Regions from separate parts of the Homo sapiens genome. Here region 2 is linked to region 1. A link means that fine-mapping ties the variant in region 1 to the expression of a gene that starts in the linked region. Tissue or cell type: whole blood. Region 1 holds a variant in brackets; the other region holds the start of a gene. All regions are shown on one strand. Distances are between the middles of the regions.

Evidence for each region. PIP is the estimated chance that this variant, and not a neighbour inherited with it, causes the effect.
Region 2: it holds the start of CRAT, and the variant in region 1 is fine-mapped to the expression of CRAT in whole blood (INTERVAL, PIP above 0.99).

The regions. Positions count from the first base shown.
Region 1 is chr9:129,127,694-129,135,473 of GRCh38, forward strand. It overlaps PTPA (protein phosphatase 2 phosphatase activator), which reads left to right. Exons shown (of 10, transcript NM_178000.3): 4 at 1,292-1,417; 5 at 3,829-3,946; 6 at 7,102-7,201. Among named protein-coding and RNA genes, the nearest start is that of PTPA, 20 kb to the left of the region's middle. RefSeq lists enhancers at 1-75, 3,837-4,391, 5,485-5,985 and a silencer at 4,083-4,284. The variant C/G (reference allele first, on the strand shown) is at 4,836.
Region 2 is chr9:129,108,906-129,113,905 of GRCh38, forward strand. CRAT (carnitine O-acetyltransferase) reads right to left here and starts at 1,888. Exons shown (of 14, transcript NM_000755.5): 1 at 1,578-1,888. The coding sequence starts at 1,604. PTPA (protein phosphatase 2 phosphatase activator) reads left to right here and starts at 2,510. Exons shown (of 10, transcript NM_178000.3): 1 at 2,510-2,726. The coding sequence starts at 2,696. RefSeq lists silencers at 1,644-2,083, 2,774-2,823 and enhancers at 2,494-2,773, 2,706-3,246.

The DNA of each region.
Region 1 (7,780 bases):
TCTTGGTCCCTGTCTTCTGTGGGAAAGGTGTAGGGGGATGGGCTCTCAAACTCTGCCACCCTACAAAGCATTGCACACGATGATCTGGCATTTCCACAAAGATTGAGTTGCAAGCTGATTTACCATAGCATTGTGTATGAAATAGGTAGTGAAACAGGTGGAAATAACCCAAACATTTAACAGTGAGGAATTAAATTAATTATAATGCAGTGGCACGATGAAATGTTATTCACTTAGTAAAAGTTGTCATAAGATTATGTTTATATGTAGATGTGGAATGAGGTTCATGAGGAAAAGGAGCAGGCTGCAAAGCAGAGTGTGTCCTGCGATGAATGCATACCATTACCCCGCGCCGGGCACTGTGCACCTTCGGAGGTATTTATCATCAGCCCCATTTTTTAGACGAAGAAACTGAGAGGCTCAGAGTTAGTCACTTGCTCAAGGTCTCACAGCAGCTAAATGGTGTTTTAGCTGGGGTTTGAATCCAGGCCCACCATGCTAAACCATGTAAAACACTATGAGAAGATAACACAGAAGGGTATGTTAAAATGTTTAGTGTAGGCCAGGCACGGTGGCTCACGCTTGTAATCCCAGAACTTTGGGAGGCCGATGCAGGTGCATCACTTGAGGTCGGGAGTTTGAGACCAGCCTGACTAACATGGAGAAACCCCATCTCTACTAGAAGTACAAAAATTAGCTGGGCGTGGTGGTGTGCGCCTTTAGTCCCAGCTACTTGGGAGGCTGAGGCAGGAGAATCGCTTGAACCTGGGAGGCAAAGGTTGCAGTGAGCCGAGATTGCACCACTGCACTCCAGCCTGGGCAACAAGAGCGAAACTCTGTCTCAAAAAAAAAAAAAAAAAGTTTAGTGTATTTCTGGGTGGCAGGATTACTGGTCATTTTCATTTTCTTCTGTTTATATTTCTATTTTTTATGATGAGTAGGTATTGCATACTGAACAAAAGGCTTCCATAAAGTCTTTTTAAAAAGATGTCAGGGCTGGAGTTAGCTTCTCTATAGCAGCAGCCCATGGGTAGGCTGCCTACAGAAACCAGGTGCTAAAGCCACCCCGTCCCTGTCCCATCAGCCTAGTGTGCTTCCCTCTCTGGAAAGCCTATCATGCTCTCCTGACCCTCCTTCATATTCAGAACAGTGGGGAAGAAAGAGGGATGGGGGAGAGTTCCCAGTAGGGGCCATGCCAAGGGGTCATTGTCTGGCAGCAGTGGACTTCCCTCTGTGGCTAAGCGGGAGCCACTTGCTCTGTAGCTTGGACCCCTCTATTTTGCCTCCACAGGCCATTGAGAAACTAGTCGCTCTTCTCAACACGCTGGACAGGTGGATTGATGAGACTCCTCCAGTGGACCAGCCCTCTCGGTTTGGGAATAAGGCATACAGGACCTGGTATGCCAAACTTGATGAGGTGAGGCTGCCACAGGACAGGCCAGGGACTGGGCTGGCAGTGAGGGTGGTTCTGGCACCAGTTGGGGAAGGGCCTGCATTGTATAGCGCTTCTAGGCATATACAAATCTCAGTTTGTTAAAATGTCAATTTCACTTAGCAAAATTACAAATGAGTTTATACTCTGCTTGGTCATCTTCTGGGAAACACGACTGTGCACATACGGCCCTCTGCACTACAAGGCTGTTTATTAAGTCACTGTATTACAGCAAACTGGAAATGTTCCAAGTATCCATCTGTAGGGGATTATTTAAATAAATTAGTCCATCAATATCATGGAGTACTGTGCAGCTATAAAAAGGAATTTTTTTTATTTTTTATTTTATCTTTTTTTTTTTTTAGACGGAGTCTCGCTGTGTTGCCCAGGCTGGAGTGCAGTGGCGCAGTCTTGGCTCACTGCAAGCTCCACCTCCTGGGTTCACGCCATTCTCCTGCCTCAGCCTTCCGAGTAGCTGGGACTACAGGCACCCACCACCACGCCCGGCTAATTTTTTGTATTTTTCGTAGAGACGGGGTTTCACCGTGTTAGCCAGGATGGTCTTGATCTCCTGACCTTGTGATCCGCCCATCTCGGCCTCCCAAAGTGCTGGGATTACAGGTGTGAGCCACCACGCTCGGCCCCAAAAAGGAATTTTTTTCATAGCTGGGCACGGTGGCTCATACATGTAATCTCAGAATTCGGGGAGGTTAAGGCGGGAGGATCACTTGAGCCCAGGAGTTTGTGAGTAGGTTGGGCAACATAGCAAGACCCCGTTACTGCAAAAAATAAGAAATGGTGGTGCACACCTTTGGTCCCAGCTGCTTGGGTGGCTGAAGCAGGAGAATGACTTGAGCTCTGGAGTTTGAGGCTGCAGTGAGCTATGATGGAGCCATTGCACACCCACTTGGAATGCTAGCTGCATACTCCATGGTGTGGATGGACTAGTCTATTGAACTGATCCTCTACTGATGTTTTTATTTTTGAATCTTACGAAGGTGTTACCTATTCAAAGCAAACAAAAATAAAAATGCAGGATCTCAGACCCTGTCTAGAAAAGCAGAGTCTACAGGTCTGGGTAGGGACTGGGAACCTGGATTTTTACTAGCTTTCCAGGAGATGGCTCATGCCAGTTGTCTACAACTGAGCTTAAGGAAATTTGGGTCCTAATTGCTCTGGCCCAATATTTTCACATAGAGCAGAGGGGAGGACTCAGGACCCAGTGAAGTGCTGTTCCCAAGAGACGCCCGGGCCTGCCTCTGGACTCTTAAGATGGTACATGATCTTTTTTTTTTTTTTTTCCTGTTGTTCAGGCTGGAGTGCAGTGGCATGATCTCAGCTCCCTGCAGCCTTGACCTCCTGGGCTCAAGCAATCGTCCTGCCTCAGCCTCCCAAGTTGCTGGGACTACAGCATGCGCCACCATGCTTGGCTAATTTTTGTGTTTTTAGTAGAGACGGGGTTTCATCATGTTGGCCAGGCTGATCTCGAAATCCTGGCCTCAGGTGATCCGCCCACCTTGGCCTCCTAAAGTGTTGGAATTACAGGTGTGAGCCACTGCTCCCAGCCTTAAGTTATATCTTAAAGCTGACAAATCATAGCTTTACAGCTTGATGGATTTTTACATGTTTTTACTCATGGACTCACCACTCATGCCAAGTTTTTTACCCATGGATTCACCACTCATGTCAAGCAATAGAACATTCTAGCTGGAGTGCTCCCCTTCCCAATTGATATCGCCCAGATTATTCTGATTTCTATTCCATAAATTGATTTTTTTCCATGTTTCTGAACTTCGTATAACTCTCTGGCTTCTTTTGCTCAATGTCATGTCTGAGATTCATCCATGTTTTCATGTCTAGCTATAGGTCTTTTTCTTTGCTGTGTAGTATTCTATTGTATGAATATACCACAATTTATTCATTTCACTGTTGATGGACATTTCCATTGCATTTCCACCTTTTGGCTACTCTAAACAGTGCTGTTGTGAACATTCTTCTGCACGTCTTTTGATGGCACATGACACCAGCTCTTGCTGACCTGAGAGTGTGAAGGAAGGTGGCCTGTGTGGGAATCATAGCACTGACCTTCCAGAGTCTCTGTGGGGCTCCAGTGAGTTACCACATGGGAGGGTTGAGGCTTTTTTCCAGATTCCTCCTGTTTTGCCCCTAGACTCCTGTGCCCTGGAAAAATCAGTTGATGATAAGTCGCCTGGGTAGTCTTCTGCTGTGGAAGAATAAATGCTGTCCCTCCCCTTCCTTCTGTGGCCTGTCAGAACAGGAACCAAGCTGGCCTGGCAAGGCAGTGTGGGCCCCCAGTCAGGTGCTGCCCCTGGGCACCTGCCCACTGGGATGCTGCTTAATATGCTGCCACCACTTTGTGTCTCTTGTGTTACCAGGAAGCAGAAAACTTGGTGGCCACAGTGGTCCCTACCCATCTGGCAGCTGCTGTGCCTGAGGTGGCTGTTTACCTAAAGGAGTCAGTGGGGAACTCCACGCGCATTGACTACGGCACAGGTATCTGCTGCTTGTGGGGCTCTGTACTTATCTAGCTTCACTGCTTTCTGTTTTGGGCTTCAGGTGGTCTCTGGGCCCTCTGAGCAAGTGAGAGCAATCAAGAATTCGCCAAGCACCTGCAACCTATTGGGGCCAGCTGGGGTTAGGGTGGCTTCACCGGCAGGGAGGGCGTAGGCATGCAGGGAGGCCCGGATGCTGCAGCTCTGCTGTGGTCCACCAGGGGGAGCTGATGCCCCGTGCATGGTGCTTGCGCAGCGCTGCTTTCTGTTCTTGTGAAAATGGTCTCTGAGCTCCTCATCATCACCAAAATAATTATTAATTGAGCACTTACTGTGTGTCAAGGCAGCAGCTTACTGAAGCTTTGAGAAATGGGAACGCTTCTTGGTGGCCTTTGCAGTGTCGTGGCACACCCTCTCCCTTGAACCCCTTGTCTCTTAGCCACATTCTCTGTGCTATTGGGCTGTTTGGATCTGTGGTCCATGTAAGCCAAGGGACCTGGACTTTGAGGAGAGGGAGTGTGTGGACACTTTAAAAGGGAAGTGTAGACAGGTGCAGTGGTGCGTGCCTGTAATCCTAGCACTTTTGGAGGCTGAGGGGGAGGATTGCCTGAGCTCAGGAGTTTAAGACCAGCCTAGGCAACGTAGCAAGACTCCATCTCTTTTTTAAAAATTTATTTTAAGTTATTTTTATTTATATATTTATTTTTTTGAGACAGGGTCTTGCTTTGTCACCCGGGCTGCAGTGCAGTGATGTGATCTTGGCCCACTGCAGCCTTGACCTCCCGGGCCCAAGTGATCCTCTCACCTCTGCATCTCCCCACTCCCCAGTACCTGGGACTACAGGTGTGCACCACCAGCCTGGCAATTTATTTATTTATTTGAGACAGAGT[C/G]TCACTCTGTTGCCCAGGCTGGAGTGCAGTGGCATGATCTTGGCTCACTGCAACCTCCACCTCCTGGGTTCAAGCGATTATTCTGCTGGGACTATAGGCACACACCACCATACCTGGCTAATTTTAGTGTTTTTGGTAGAGACAGGGTTTCACCATGTTGGCCAGGCTGGTCTCGAACTCCTGACCTCTGGTGAGGTCACTTCTCCACCCACCTTGGCCTCCCAAAGTGCTGGGACTGGGATTACAGGCGTGAGCCACTGCGCCCAGCTGATTGTTTTGTATTTTTTGTAGAGATGGGGTTTTGCCATGTTGCCTGGGCTGGTCTTGAACTCCTGAGCTCAAGCTGTTCTCCCACCTCAGCCTCCCAAAGTGCTCAGATTACAGGTGCAAGCCACCATGCTGAGACCCCATCTCTCAAAAATATAAAAGGGAGGTGTTCTCTAGGTCAGGGCATGGCCTGTGGAGCCACCATGCTGAGACCCCATCTCTCAAAAATATAGAAGGGAGGCATTCTCTGTGTCAGGGCACGGCCTGTCGAGCCACCATGCTGAGACCCCATCTCTCAAAAATAGAGAAGGGAGGCGTTCTCTAGGTCAGGGCCTGGCCTGTGCAGCTAAGGAGGACCTCTGCTTTGGTGAGGGCCCGCCTTCCTTCCCTGAGGCAGGCAGATGGGGCACCGCTCAGCCCTCCCCTTGTCTGGGGAATGTGATCCACAGGAGGGAGCCCCAGCCACAGAGGCAGGCCCTGGAGAAGGGCCCTCTTGGACCGGGTGGGGCTTTGACTAAGACCAGCAGGAAAAGATCAAAGAGGGAAGACTGGCCAGGTCAGCAGGGGTTGGTGCCCCAGCTGCATGTGAACCCCTGAACAATGGGAGCCTGGGCCCTGTCTGGTCATAATTGGAAACTGTGGCAGGGGAAGGAAACTGAGCTCACAAGCTTCCAGGCCCTGGAGGGGTCTTCGTCCTCCAGAGACAGGACAGAAGTATTCTCTGACACATTCTCTTCTCACCTCCCTCCAGATAGGTTTTGTGTGACATTGTGAACAATGGGATTCAATCACAGTCCAGTGAGTTGTTCCTACAGTGCAGACCATTCCTGTTTGATATGACTGGGAAAGGAAGGAGGATACTTTTTCACCCTGTAATCTGATCATGTGTTCCCTGCTTAGAAGCCTGCAGTGGCTCCCTATTGCTCTTAGGGTAAAGTCTGAGCTCTTTCCTATGGCCAAAAGGCCCATGTGACCTGTAGCCTCCTGTCATTACACGTTCTCCCTTGCTCTCACTGCCTTCGACATACTGGCCTCCTTAGTGTTCCTCAAACAGATCAAACTTTTTCTTGCCTCAAGGCCTGTGCACATGCTATTCCTTCTGGCTAGAATGCATTTCTTGCTTCCCTCACTCCCTTTGCCTTGCCAGCTCACATCTTTCAGATTTCAGATTAGATGTTACTTCCTTAGGGGAAACCTTGAACCCTTACGTCAGGGTCCTTCTGTGATATCCTCCAGTTAGTACCCTGTCTTTCTCCTTCAGAGCTGGAATCATAGTAGTGACTGTATATTTATAATGTCTGTTGTCCCTGATAGATCATAAACTTTCTGAGGGCAAGGACTTACTTGTCACTGTCTCCTAGTGCGTAACATGGACAGTGACTGCTTACATAGTAGGTGCTCAGTAAATATGGTGGAATTGCTGAGTGAGTTAAACCTACGTAATGAAATGTAAATGTCCAGCCCGGGTCTTTTACGAGTGGAATTATAGTACTGGTAGTTCTTTTTTTTTTTTTTTTTTTTTTTTTTTTGAGACAGTCTCACTTTGTCACCCAGGCTGGAGTGCAGTGGCCTTATCATGGCTCACTGCAGCCTCAACCTCCTGGGCTCAGGAGATCCTCCATCTCAGCCTCCTGAGTAGTTGGGACCACAGGCACATGCCACCATGTCTGGCTAATTTTTGTATTTTTTGTAGAGACAGGGTTTTGCCATGTTGGCCAGGCTGATCTCAAACTCCTGAGCTCAAGCAAGCTGCCTGCCTCAGCCTCCTGAAGTGCTGGGATTACAGGCATGAGCCACCATGCACGGCCAGTACTGGTATTATAGTTCTTGAAAGGAAAGGGCCTAGCAAGTCTTTCTGAATGGGGAAGAGGTCTCATTGTCTCCATGTTGACCACCCTCCTCAGAGGGGCACTTATCAATGATTCGGATTCTGGGAGACTAAAACAATCCCAGTCCTTTACCTGGACTACTGTCAACGCTGGTTGTTTTTCTCCTCCAGGGCATGAGGCAGCCTTCGCTGCTTTCCTCTGCTGTCTCTGCAAGATTGGGGTGCTCCGGGTGGATGACCAAATAGCTATTGTCTTCAAGGTGTTCAATCGGTGAGAGAAAGGACAGGAGGGTTGGAGGAGGGGGCGTGAGGGGCCATCTGTTTCCTCCTCAAACTGGGAAATGGGGTGCTCTAGGGTTCTCCTGAGTAGCTCATGGTTCTCTTGTCCTGTCCTAATCAAGCTCTGGCTGTGGATGGAGTGTCCAAGCCTTTTTTCCAACAGGTTCAAATTAACCTCCAAGTAAAAGCAAGTGAAAGAATTGTCACATAGGCCGGGCGCGGTGGCTCACGCCTGTAATCCCAGGACTTTGGGAGGCCCAGGCAGGCGGATCACGAGGTCAGGTGTTCGACACCAGCCTGGCCAACATGATGAAACCCCGTCTCTACTAAAAATACAAGAATTAGCTGGGCGTGGTGGCACTCGCCTGTAATTCCAGCTACTCAGGAGGCTGAGGCAGAAGAATTGCTTGAACCCAGGAGGCGGAGGTTGCAGTGAGCTGAGATCGTGCCACTGTACTCCAGCCTGGGTGACAGAGTGAGACTCTGTCTTAAAAAAAAAAAGAATTGTCACATAATGTCTGCCAGTATTGACACAGTGTTGACCATATGGAGGAAGAATTCTAAGCACTTT
Region 2 (5,000 bases), 20 kb before region 1:
GGAAAGAGAAGACAAGAGCCAAGATTCAGCGGGAGGCAGGTGGCAGTGGCGATGGCTGTGGTGGAATCGGGGGTTGTGGCAGTGGCAGGGGAAGCTCCTGGACTCTAGAAGCTGCTCCACCCTCCCGAGCTCCCAGAAGTAGAGGAATGGGGAGCAGGTGAGAGGGCTAGTGGGGGGGCATTCCAGTAGAAGGGAACCTGGAAAGTTCTTTCCTTTCTTCTCTGCATGGGCTCAGTGCCAGGGAGTCAGGACAAAAGGTAATAAAAAATCCACCTGTCAGAATCTGCGAAGATCGTTTTGATGAGGGAAAACTTGGCTGGAGGACAGAGACTGCCTGGCCGCTGAGGTTACACCACAGCCCTGGGATCGGTCCTGAAATTAGGGTTGGTGCAAGGGAGCAGACACCAGGAAAAGGCCATCAGTGGATGGGACAGCCAGAAGCCCTGCCTATTTCCTGTTTCTCTCCAGGACTCCTGGGACCCATCTGAGCCATCCCTCTACGAACACTCATTTTTTCCTGAGCTGTGGCTCATTCAGCTAGGGTCCAAGAGCGGAGGACTTTTGGTATGAAAAATAAACCAAAGGACACTGGGATTGGGCTGGATTTGAATGAGCAGGTCCAGGGGACTCTGGGCAAGTCCCTCCTTGCCTCAGTTTCCCTGCAGGAAGGTAACCAGTCCAGTCGGATGGTCCTGGAGGATGATCTAGAGGCTGTTTGTGGGATGGATGCAGCTTGGGAGACAGTGACAAGGGTGCGGTGGAGGCTCAGGGTGTTGCAACACCTAAAAGAGCCTCTAGGCCTGAGCCTGGATGCACCCTCCGCCCTCTGGCCCCGTAGTGTGTGTCTGAGACAGAGTGAGACACCAGCAACATATGCTTGGATCAGGGACGGAAGGGACTGAAATTAGGCTAGCATCCGGGCTGCTCACCGGGGAGGACTGAGGGGTAGATATAGCCAGGGTGGGGAAGGGGGCTAGAGGGGAGGATATAGCCAGGGTGGGGAAGGGGGCTGGAGGGAAGGATACAGCCAGGGTGGGGAAGGGGGCTGGAGGGGAGGGAGACCATGGGGCTGCCACCTGCCAGTTCTGAGGCCTTTCTAGCTTGATGCCTCCGCGTGTTTCTCTGGCCACACACAATTCCCCAGGGACCGTCTGATAAACCAAAGGAGTGTGACCAACTGGACAGGGTCGGAGGAGTGGCTCTGGCCTAAGCGTGCGACGGGTGTGTCAATCGGAGAATAACTGGGAGAGTGAGCTAGGGTCTGGATGCTCCTGGTCTCTCTCCCCTACCGGCCTGTCTCTGGGTCTAAGGGTGGGGGTGCTAACTGAAGCCGGGGTCCCCCTTGTCTTTCCTGGGTCGTTGGAACTGAATGCTCCAGGACGTGGGTTTAATCCCGCTTCTGACCTTGCGCCCCAATCTCCTGCTCTGCCAAACCTGGGACGCCCGCCTGACCCCACCCCATCAGCTGGAGGCCGGGTCGAACAGCGGCCGCAGGACGCGGTCTCCGTTCCCGGACGCAACCGCACGGCCCGCCCAGGCCGTCCAGGGCCCTCAGGCCCGGGATCCGCCGCACTCACCACGGTCCTGGCAGCGAAGGCTAACATCTTCGCTGCCCGTCCGCGGACACGCAGTCCGCTCCGCCCCACACACCGGGCAAAGTCCGCGCCGCCGCCGCCGCGGCTGGGGTCGGTGGGTCCTTGCTAGAGCCTTCGGGCCAAGGTCGCTGAGTTACAGCCGCCAGCCGGTAGAGGCAGCCCCGCGCCCACCCTCTGGGCCGAGCGGGCTGCGGGAAGGCACCCGGGGAGGAGGACTCGCGAGGCGGGGCCTGGGCCGGTAGCGGGCCCCGGGCGGGCAACGGTGCCCGGGAGGTTGGCTGTGGGGCGGGGACGGGGCATCGATGGGGCGGAGTCTCCTTGAGGAGGGACAGGAGGGGCGGGGACGGAGGGGCGGGGCGTCGCCCGGTAGCGGGTCGCAGTAGGCTGGCTGCGAGTCGGGGGCGGGACCACGGCGGGCGGGGACAGAGGGGCAGGGCCGAGGGCGAGTCATTGAGACCTGTGGAGGAGGAAGGAGGAGGTCACCGTCCAGCTGTCTCTCCCCTGTCCCCACATGTCTTCTAAGCTGTTGGAGGTAGTGGTGTGCACCTTTCCAACTCCGTCTGGTGTCCTTGAGCCTAACTCTTAGAGTGATAGGAAAACACAACCATGTTGACCGGGGAATGTCCTCTAATATTCCTTGGGTTAGGGTCAGTACCACCCACAAAGATGACAGGTGGTACTCCGGGACAGGAGACTGTCCCGGAAAAACATGGCTGAGCACAACCCAAACTTGACGCCCCGCACAATCGTGGCAGTCGCGGCGCCCGACGTTCGGGCGGCCGTGAGCGGTCCTAGCGCTTGGCGGCCGTTGGCGCGCATGCGCCCCGCGCGCCCCGCACTGACATGGCCGTCGCCCGGTTCCGCGCGTCCGCCGCGCGCCGGCCGTTAATAGGCTTGCTCCCTGAGCGCCCCGCACCGACATGGCGGCCGTCTTCGCTGTGGTGACTTTAACTCTCGGTTTTCGGTTATAGCCGGCCGGCGCTCACTTGTCTTCAGGAAGCTCGGAGCCTTTGGTGGAGCCGGGGAGAGGAAGGGTGGGTGCAAGAGTGAAAGGCGAGAGGGGACTGCAAGCATCCGGGTCGGCTCCTGGCCGGAGCAAGATGGCTGAGGGCGAGCGGCAGCCGCCGCCAGGTAAGGCCGGCGGGGCCAGGCCGGGCCGGGGTCGGGTAGGGTGGGGGCGGTGCCAGGTGTGGGAGGCTCAGGAGGGCGAGAGTCATGACACGGAGGAACTGGAGGGGCAAAAGCTGAGGGGCCCCGAGGAGGGACTGAGTTGAATGGCCTTAGGGGAGAGGTGGGTGGTGGGGCGCCGCTGGGGAGGGAACCAGGGGCTGCAAAGGGGTGGTGATTGGGGCGCAACTCTGGGTTTTGTGGGAGTCCAGGCTGCCCGAATGCTGGGTGGGCAGCGCCGTGGTCATAAGGGGGCCTTTTGCATCTCTGGGCAGCGCGTGCTTAAGTAAGCTGCTGACTCGGTGGGGAAGCTGCCAGGGAGGGGGGCGAAAGTGATTCCGGAGGCTGCCGTCTTTATTAGTCGCTGCTTAGGGGATGGGGTGGTGCTCCGTGGGCCTGCGCCCGCCTCGCCTCCAGTTTCGGCCTCCGCGTCCTGCTCACCCCTCATCCTCCTACTCTCTGGTTCCAGTGCCTGAGAATTTATTGAGGGAAACTGCCCGTGGTGTCTAAATCCCTAATTTTAAAAGGCTGGTTGTGCAAGGAGGTTAGTCTCTCCGGCATCTCCTTCGGTAACTCTTATTTACCTTGTAGCCTCTTTTTAGTTCATCTTAAATAACTGGGATGGAGGTGCTACGGAAGGATCTTAGAGACCCTTTTTGTGCAGAAGGAGAAGGCTGTTTGCCGACCTACCTTGAACTAAGAAGGACTGGCCATAGATAACTTTTACATTCCCGACAGAGGCAAATAGGTTGGCCGACCAAACACAGCTAATGTTTTGAAAGCATTTGATATTCTTGCTATCCTGTCTCCAATGTTGGGGTCCCTGGGAAGGTCTCAGGAGGGAGAAATGTTGAAAATCAGAAAAGGCATCCCCTCCATGCCCCACAAAAGAGGTGAACAAAGAGCTGGGTTCCGTTTCTTAGGACATTCAAAACCAGACATTTATTTTGTACAAAACCTCTGGGTGTGTGCCCTTAGAACAAGGATGTCCAGGCCAGGCGCGGTGGCTCATGCCCGTAATCCCAGCACTTTGGGAGGCCGAGGCGGGCTGATCACCTGAGGTCGGGAGTTCGAGACCAGCCTGACCAACATGGAGAAACTCCGTCTCTTCTAAAAATACAAAATTAGCCGGGCGTGGTGACACACGCCCGTAATCCCAACTACTAGGGAGGATGAGGCAGGAGAATCGCTTGAACCTGGGAAGCAGAGGTTGCGGTGAGCTGAGATCGCGGCATTGCACTCCAGCCTGGACAACAAGAGTGAAACTCCGTCACCCCCCAAAAAAAAAACCGGGGTGTCCACTCTTTTGGCTTCTCTAAGCCACATTGGAAGCAGAATTGTCTTGGGTCACACATAAAATACACTAACACTAACGATGGCTGATGAGCTAAAAAAAAAGTCGCAAAAAAAAAAATCTCATAATGGTTTTGTGTTTCTTTTTTTTGAGACAGTGTCTCACTCTGTCCCCCAGGCTGAAGTGCAGTGGCATGGTCTCGGCTGACTGCACCCTCTGCCTCCCGGGTTCAAGCGATTCTCCTGCCTCAGCCTCCTGAGTAGCTGGGACTACAGGTGCGCCACCATGCCTGGCTAATTTTTGTATTTTTAATAGGGACAGGGTTTCACCATATTGGCCAGGCTGGTCTCGAACTCCTGACCTCGTGATCCTCCTGCCTCGGCCTTCCAAAGTGCTGGGATTACAGGCATGAGCCACCGTGCCTGGCCTATGTTTTAAGAAAGTTTACAAATTTGTGTCCGGCTACATTCAAAGCTGTCCTGGGCTGTGGGTTGAACAAGCTAGCCTTAGAAGTTCTGGTGATGACTCCGGGCACAGTGGCTCACACCTGTAATCCCAGCACTTTGGGAGGCCGACACAGGCGGATCACTTGAGGTCAGGAGTTCGAGACCAGCCATGGCCAACATGGCAAAACCCCGTCTGTATTCAAAATACAAAAATTAGCTGGGTGTGGTGGCACACGTCTGTAATCGCAGCTACTCGGGAGGCTGAGGCAGGAGAATCACTTGAACCCAGGAGGCGGAGGTTGCAGTGAGCCGAGATTGCTCCACTGCACTCCAGCCACTGCACCCCAGCCTGGGCGAGAGAGCTAGACTCCATCTCAAAAAAGAAAAAGTTCTGGTAAGGACATCAGGAGATAGGAGATATAAGGCAACCACTGTTATCAGTGAGATGAATGTGTCCCTGAAGATGAGTGGGGGTGGGGAGTGGGAGGAGAGAGAACC